2 separate regions of the Homo sapiens genome follow, and region 2 is reported to be linked to region 1. Evidence: microRNA targets listed by miRTarBase, many of them from high-throughput screens and not tested one by one. Region 1 holds a microRNA gene; the other region holds the end of a gene's coding sequence.

The links. The annotated mature microRNA hsa-miR-3617-5p reads AAAGACAUAGUUGCAAGAUGGG and lies in region 1 at 2,315-2,336, shown strand. An mRNA with a match to its seed (bases 2 to 7 or 8) in the 3' UTR can be bound and repressed. Matches are read on the target gene's strand: a 7mer-m8 pairs with bases 2 to 8, a 7mer-A1 pairs with bases 2 to 7 and ends in A, and an 8mer does both.
Region 2: the mRNA of NLN is a reported target of hsa-miR-3617-5p. Seed matches in the 3' UTR shown: 7mer-m8 at 3,241-3,247.

What each region holds. Positions count from the first base shown.
Region 1 is chr20:45,704,076-45,707,485 of GRCh38, reverse strand. MIR3617 (microRNA 3617) reads left to right here and starts at 2,306; the gene lies at 2,306-2,384. It overlaps WFDC10B (WAP four-disulfide core domain 10B), which reads left to right and starts at 2,467. Exons shown (of 4, transcript NM_172006.2): 1 at 2,467-2,568; 2 at 2,925-2,989. WFDC13 (WAP four-disulfide core domain 13) reads right to left here. Exons shown (of 4, transcript NM_172005.2): 2 at 2,892-3,042; 3 at 1,559-1,623. The coding sequence ends at 1,581.
Region 2 is chr5:65,822,275-65,825,684 of GRCh38, forward strand. It overlaps NLN (neurolysin), which reads left to right. Exons shown (of 13, transcript NM_020726.5): 13 at 507-3,410. The coding sequence ends at 641. Among named protein-coding and RNA genes, the nearest start is that of NLN, 100 kb to the left of the region's middle.

The DNA of each region.
Region 1 (3,410 bases):
GAATATTTTATTTTATTGTAATTCATATGAATTAACATTTAAATAGCCTCTCGTGACCAGTGCCTACAGTATTGGATAGATCAAACTCAGATTATTAAAACAGTGATAGCCAACCTGTATGTAAGAGACCTGCCTCACTCAGGTCAACTCGAACCACATATGGTCAGTTTCTGGTAGTAAAAGAGTCTATAGATTTTTCTGAACAGTATTTCCTGCCCTGGATCAGGGGTCACTAGGTTATGGTAGGCCAAAGATAGGACACTACAAAAGACAAAGAGAGGGACTAATTCTGTCTGGAGTGAACTGGTGAAGTTTCTATGGAGTGTTTAATTTAATAGAAACCTTGAAGCATGAGTGGGAGCTCATCCGCAGCATGGTGGGCTCACCGGAGCCTGGGCAAGTGCTCATGCGTCTAAACTGCTCCACTGGCCTCCACCTGCTACTATTTATCACGCTCCTTTGTACAGGGTTAATAAAAGGACTAAGCTGAAAGACCACCATTCTAATTTGGAACATCTGGAGACATCAGAAGGCCCATTAGAAGACCCTAAACTTCTAACTTTTTCTTTCAAATACTCTGAAACGAAATCCACCAACTTATGAATACTATCATTTTTTTGGTGGTGGAATTCCACAGGACTCCATTTTGTTCACCATTCTTGAAGCATCAGTAAAATAATAAAGATGATTCCCACTCCCTCTTTTTTTTTTTTTGAGACGGAGTCTCACTCTGTCGCCCAGGCTGGAGTGCAATGGTGCACTCTTGGCTCACTGCAACCTCTGCCTCCTGGGTTCAAGCAATTCTCCTGCTTCAGCCTCCTGAGTAGCTGGGATTCCAGGTGTGCACCATCACACCCAACTAATTTTTGTATTTTTAGTAGAGACAGGGTTTCACTCTGTTGGTCAGGCTGGTCTTGAACTCCTGACCTCGTGATCCGTCCACCTTGGCCTCCGAAAGTGCTGGGGTTACAGGTGTGAGTCACCATACCCGGCCCACTCCCTCTTTTTTCAGAGAAAAAACTGGAACCTGAATGAGTGACCTTGTAAGTGAGTTGCTGGCAGTTTCTACCTTTGCAGAGACCAAGTTCTTCCATCTACATGGCCTTGTGTTGTCCTCCCAATACCCCAAGGCATGGATGTTTTCTTCATATTTCACATGAGGGAGGTGACTGTCTCAGAGAGGTACAGTGAGCAGACCAAAGTCTCAGAGCGTGAAGGGCTCAGCTTGAGTCCCTGCCCAGGGTGCTGTCAACCCGGAGGCTAGAAGAGCTTGTTCCTTGACAAAGCCTCAGATCTGAGTGCCCTGGGTTCCCCCTGGGCCATGACTTGGTTCCTTACATTGCTCTGTGTTGCAGAATTCATGCTGGACTGCACCGTGCCTCCCCCAGGGAGTGCAAAGATAGCCCTTGGAGGGGAATGATGGAGGAGGAGGCAATCAGGTAATGAGAGGCCATTCTGAGCTTGTGGGAATGTAGTGCCCCTGGTGAGGCTACAGGAAGAAAGTGAGCATCCCTGGGAATCTCACATGAGGAAGGCGAGACCAAATCCCTGTACTTACAAAATGATCTAGGAAATATGCCTCAGTTGGCAGGCATGATGACTTCTGAGCCCTTGTGTTTGATTCTGTAGAAGAAAAATATTTTCAAATATTAACTAGTGAAGTTTTACTTTTAGAGATATATATTTTTCTTTCAATTACTTCCACCATTAATATTAGACCATGAAGCTCATTTCTCTTGCCATAGGGAAGGCAGAACCTCAAAAAACTCAATGACACCAAAGAGTTATATTTATGCTTCTGCATTCCAATGTAGAGCATTGAAAGATGTGGAATTTAATTGCAAGGGCTAGTCTCTTCAAAGAGAAGTGGTTGCCTAATCCCCAAAATTCACAGCAATTATGTTGGCAAGTAATGTTTTAAAGCTTACATGGATTGTCTATTTTAACCTCACTATTATTGTTCCAGTCTTAAGGATGAGGAAGTTGATGCCCAGAGAGAGGTTAATTAGCTTGTCTAAGATCACTTAAGGTCACTTAGCTAAGAAGCCAGGATTTGAGCCCAGGTGTTTGGCTTTGAGCCCATGCTTAATCACTCTGCACATTATCTCATGCTGGGTATTCTGCTCATGGTAGGGAATACAGCAGGGAACAAGACTGCCAGGCTTCCCTCAAAGGGCTCATTGGTTGAGTCTTCCACTGTGAGTCTTTTGAAATTTCATATGGGCCTTGCAAAGCAGGAAAAAACAAGAGTACTTATTTTACTCATGAGAAAAAGAAAGTAAAAAAGAGGGAATTGTCTTACTCAAGGTCATAGAAAGACATAGTTGCAAGATGGGATTAGAAACCATATGTCTCATCAGCACCCTATGTCCTTTCTCTGCCCTGGGAGCACACTCCATTTAGCAGGCTTGCGGCTAGTGTTAATGTCTGGACAATTAATCAAAACTTCCTTTGGGCTGGATCTCCAGAGCCCAAGAACACTGGTGGCCAAAGGATGGTGTCTTGTGAAAGGAGGGCAAGCAAAAGTGTAGGACAAATTTTGCTTTGGGATTTTGGTTACACCTGCAGGTACAGTGTCCCTGGGATAAGGGTGGATTCTGGGTCGGGGGAAGGTCTGTGGATAAAGGCATTTGTGGGTGTGTTCAGAGAGGCAGAGTCAGAAATTCACGGATATGGTGATGGGATGTGGTGATTGGGAGGGGAGGAGGGCTTTTCTAATCAGGACTTTTATGGAAATTATCCTTGGTCAAGAGAAGGGGCATGTTGGCAACATGGCCACCAAGGAAAAAAAAAAAAAAGGAGAGATCCAGCACAGTTGCTGGTAAGGGACTCTTCTGCTGGGCTCCCACCAGCAGCTCTAGGATCAGACCTGGATATGAGATATCTCTTACCTGTTGCGCTTTTGAAATGTTTCTGATGAACAGACTATCCCACAGAAGGAGGAACAGCACTGAAATCCTTTCTCGCAATCTTCCTGCATTGTACACAGGTGAGTACAGTTTTCAGGTGCTGATATGCAGGGTGGAGGTTCCAAGATATACTCTGGAACACAGAACAAGTAAGAGAAGGGCCTCACCAACAGGCTGGAGTAATGTTCAGAACTCAGAAAGCCCAGGGAACTGCCAGGAAACCTGCCACCCTCATCTGCCTTGCATGGTTCCAGGGTGGTGGCATCAGGTTTTGTCCTCAGCTGCTGCCTTCCTCTGAGTTCTGAGCAGGGAAGCAGGGCATGGATATTTTTTGATCAAGAACAGAGTTTGGTAGAACCCTGCACCCATTGGTCATTCACCATCCTTGTAGTTCAGATGCCAAGCCCCCATTGACTATGGTTGTGTCCATATCAAGGGTATCAATGGTGTATGTGGTGAACAAGAAAGAGGTTTGTATGTTCGTTCTGCACTGATTCATTG
Region 2 (3,410 bases), not on the chromosome of region 1:
GTACAGCCCTTCTTCTCTCATCCATAAGGAAGAGGGTTCTGTTGTTGTTGTTTTGAATGAGCCCATCATAAAAGCAGCAGAAACCATTTGACAGTAGCCATGCTACTGTTTCTGAGTACCCAGAAGGCTATTTGTAGCCTTCGTGAACACTTGCTTTCTAAGCCTTTTGAAATCACGAGAGATAGCATAGCAAATAGGAACCTGTTGTATATTCCATTTGGCTATATTTTGTTTGTTTGTTCATGTTGTCAGCTCACTGCTTAGAATCTAAGGAGACAAGACCATAATAAAGGACAGTGTAGAAGACCTGAAGTTTTAAGCTCCAAATCTCTTAGCTACCAAAATAAATAAATACTACAGAGCTGTTTGTGAGCAAGAGAAAACATCTAGACAGAGTAAGGCTAAAGTCCTTTTTCCTTCACCCCTACCCTCTCCTCTTTTGCATCTAGAGATTTGGAAAATTGCTAGAACCATGAATTATTAGGTATGATGTTTTATTTTATTAGGTTGGAATGAAATACAGAAACCTAATCCTGAAACCTGGGGGATCTCTGGACGGCATGGACATGCTCCACAATTTCTTGAAACGTGAGCCAAACCAAAAAGCGTTCCTAATGAGTAGAGGCCTGCATGCTCCGTGAACTGGGGATCTTTGGTAGCCGTCCATGTCTGGAGGACAAGTCGACATCACCATGTGTTACTGGCCTGGAAACTGAAGGGAGTTTTGCAAGTGAAAATTTAGATTTCTATTGACATCCTTTTGTTTTCTAATTTTAAAAATTATAAAGATGTAAATGGAATTATAAATACTGTGACCTAAGAAAAGACCCACTAGAAAGTAATTGTACTATAAAATTTCATAAAACTGGATTTGATTTCTTTTTATGAAAGTTTCATATGAATGTAACTTGATTTTTTACTATTATAATCTAGATAATATGATATAAGAGGGCTAAGAATTTTTAAATTGAATCATATATATGATATAATTTGATCCTTCTTGTATCTTGAAGTTTTGTACTTGGGATTTCTGGACTGATAAATGAATCATCACATTCTTCTGGTAAATATTTTCTTGGAGCTCTGTGTCAACTTTGATCCTTTGTCTCCCAGGAAGGTGTGACCTCTCCTTTGCCTGCATACCTCAAGGCCAGGGGAATATGCCTCAGTGATGCATTTATCTTTGTATATCAGGCCGCATGATTCCCAACTTTCTGCCACACTTAAATTACGTTCCTCCATTTCAGTTTTGTCTTTTCTGTCTAAAGTTCAGTCAAAGAGTATCAAAAAATTATGTTTCAGCTAGACTGGTGTAATGTATAAGTTTTTGTATCTTGTATTAGAGGATTTCGTAGCTTTTATTAGAGGCTCATTTCCACCTCAGCATACAAGATCGTTAGTCTTTTGGCATGTGTGCCAATTAGAATACTAAAGCAAGTCCAAGCACATTTTTCTCTTCTCACGTTTCTAATAAGTGTTAGGGACTTTGCCTCTTTTACTTACCACGTCCCCAAAAGTGTCAGGTAGACATGTCACAAATGGCTCTGTAGAGAGCCATGGGAAGAGAGAGGAGGTGGATGTGGAACATAAAGGGTTCAGAAACTCCAGAAGAGGAGTGGGTTTTGGATAGAAGCATTTGAGGACAGCTGCTCCAAAGCCTTATGTGTATGATGAAACTTAACCACGGGGAAGAGACTCTTCAGTAGCCTGTTCTGTCTGGTGATTTTTATTTTAAGTGAACCTTTGGATCTATCTTTAACTCTCTTTATTGTGAGTCTAAATTCCAATTCTGCAGCAGATCAGTAAACTCACAGTATTTTTCCTGTGGAAATCTATTCAATAAGGAAACCAAGACAGGATAATAAAATTTAAAAAAAAAACAACTTTGAATTCCCCTGCCTAGGTCTTCCAGTTGTTTTCCAGCGCATACCTCAGGTATGACTTTGCTAGCCGGGGACAAAATTAGCACCTTCCGATTCTCTAGTCCAAATGAACTTTGTGCTAAATAAAAAATTATTATACTACATAATAAAGTTACAGATAGCAGGAAATGCAAGAGCTAGGAGATTCCTAGATTATATCTGCCAAGCAAATACCTTAAACATCCACCTGAAATCCTACTACCCCCTCTTCTGAGATAATTTGCCCAGCCCTTCTCTTCCCACACACTCACTCAATGTCACCCCCTTCTAATCCCCAAAACTGTTTTTGTGGTCTTTGTAGCCTATAGTAGTTTTCTCACATCTTTCCCCCTAGACTTTTCTGTTTTTCAGTTTCAGACAAAAAAACTCTTCAGCTTTTTCCAGTGTGTCTCCTTAACAGTAACTTTACCACTTGAAATCTTATTTCATAGAAAAACTAAATTGGTGTGGAAAGGCTGCACACAATAAAGTTATATTATTATCCATGAAAATGAACTCATATTTCTTTCATACTTTAACGTTAAAACCGAAATGCATGAGAGCAAAAGCACCATGGTGTTCTTTCTATTTAGGGCCTACCTCTAATATTTAAAATCTACCAAAGAGCAGTCACAAAATTAAAACTCAGCCCGGGCGCAGTGGCTCATGCCTGTAATCCCAGCACTTTGGGAGGCCAAGGCAGGAGGATCACCTGAGGTCAGAGTTCAAGACCAGCATGGTCAACATGGTGAAACCCTGTCTCTACAAAAATACAAAAAGCTGGGCATGATGTTGGGTTCCTGTAGTCCCAGCTACTTAGGAGGCTGAGGCAGGAGAATAGCTTGAACCCGGGAGGTGGAGGTTGCAGTGAGCTGAGATCATGCCATTGCACTCCAGCCTGGACGACAGAGTGAGATTCAGTCTCAAAAAAAATTAATACTCAAAGAATTATCTAGCATAATTTAAAAGAAAGGACTTTTTAAAAATTCTCTAGCATAATTCAAAAGAAAGGACTTAACTTTTTTTTTTTTAGTGTGGTCATCCGTCTAGTTGTTCTTTTTTTCCAGATCAGAGCAGAGAATATCACTGACATGCTTGAAATGGTGGATAACTATGTAAATTGTAATTGGACAAATGTACACTTTAGATTTATGGACTGAGCCACATATAATAAGGTCTCTCCTGGTAATTGATCCAGGGGATTTAGGCCTCTTTCGGGTTTTTTGTTTTTTTTTTAGGCATTGTTATGTTGTGAAGGATAAAATCTTCAACATCTTATGCAAATGGATAGTAGGCATGATCCTAAAGGTTTAGTTTTACGATGCTGCAGAGAAGAGAAATGTCTTGACGTTTTGCCACCTGATGTAGACTTTGTCCCCCTCTAGTATAAATGTTGCATGTTACCTAGATAAACAACTAAAAATTGCCTTGAGTTATCACCTGAGCTACTTATGCCAAGGTCTTGCCTTTCTAAAGCTAATAAGGTGAGAGGTGGATATCTGTAGCTCT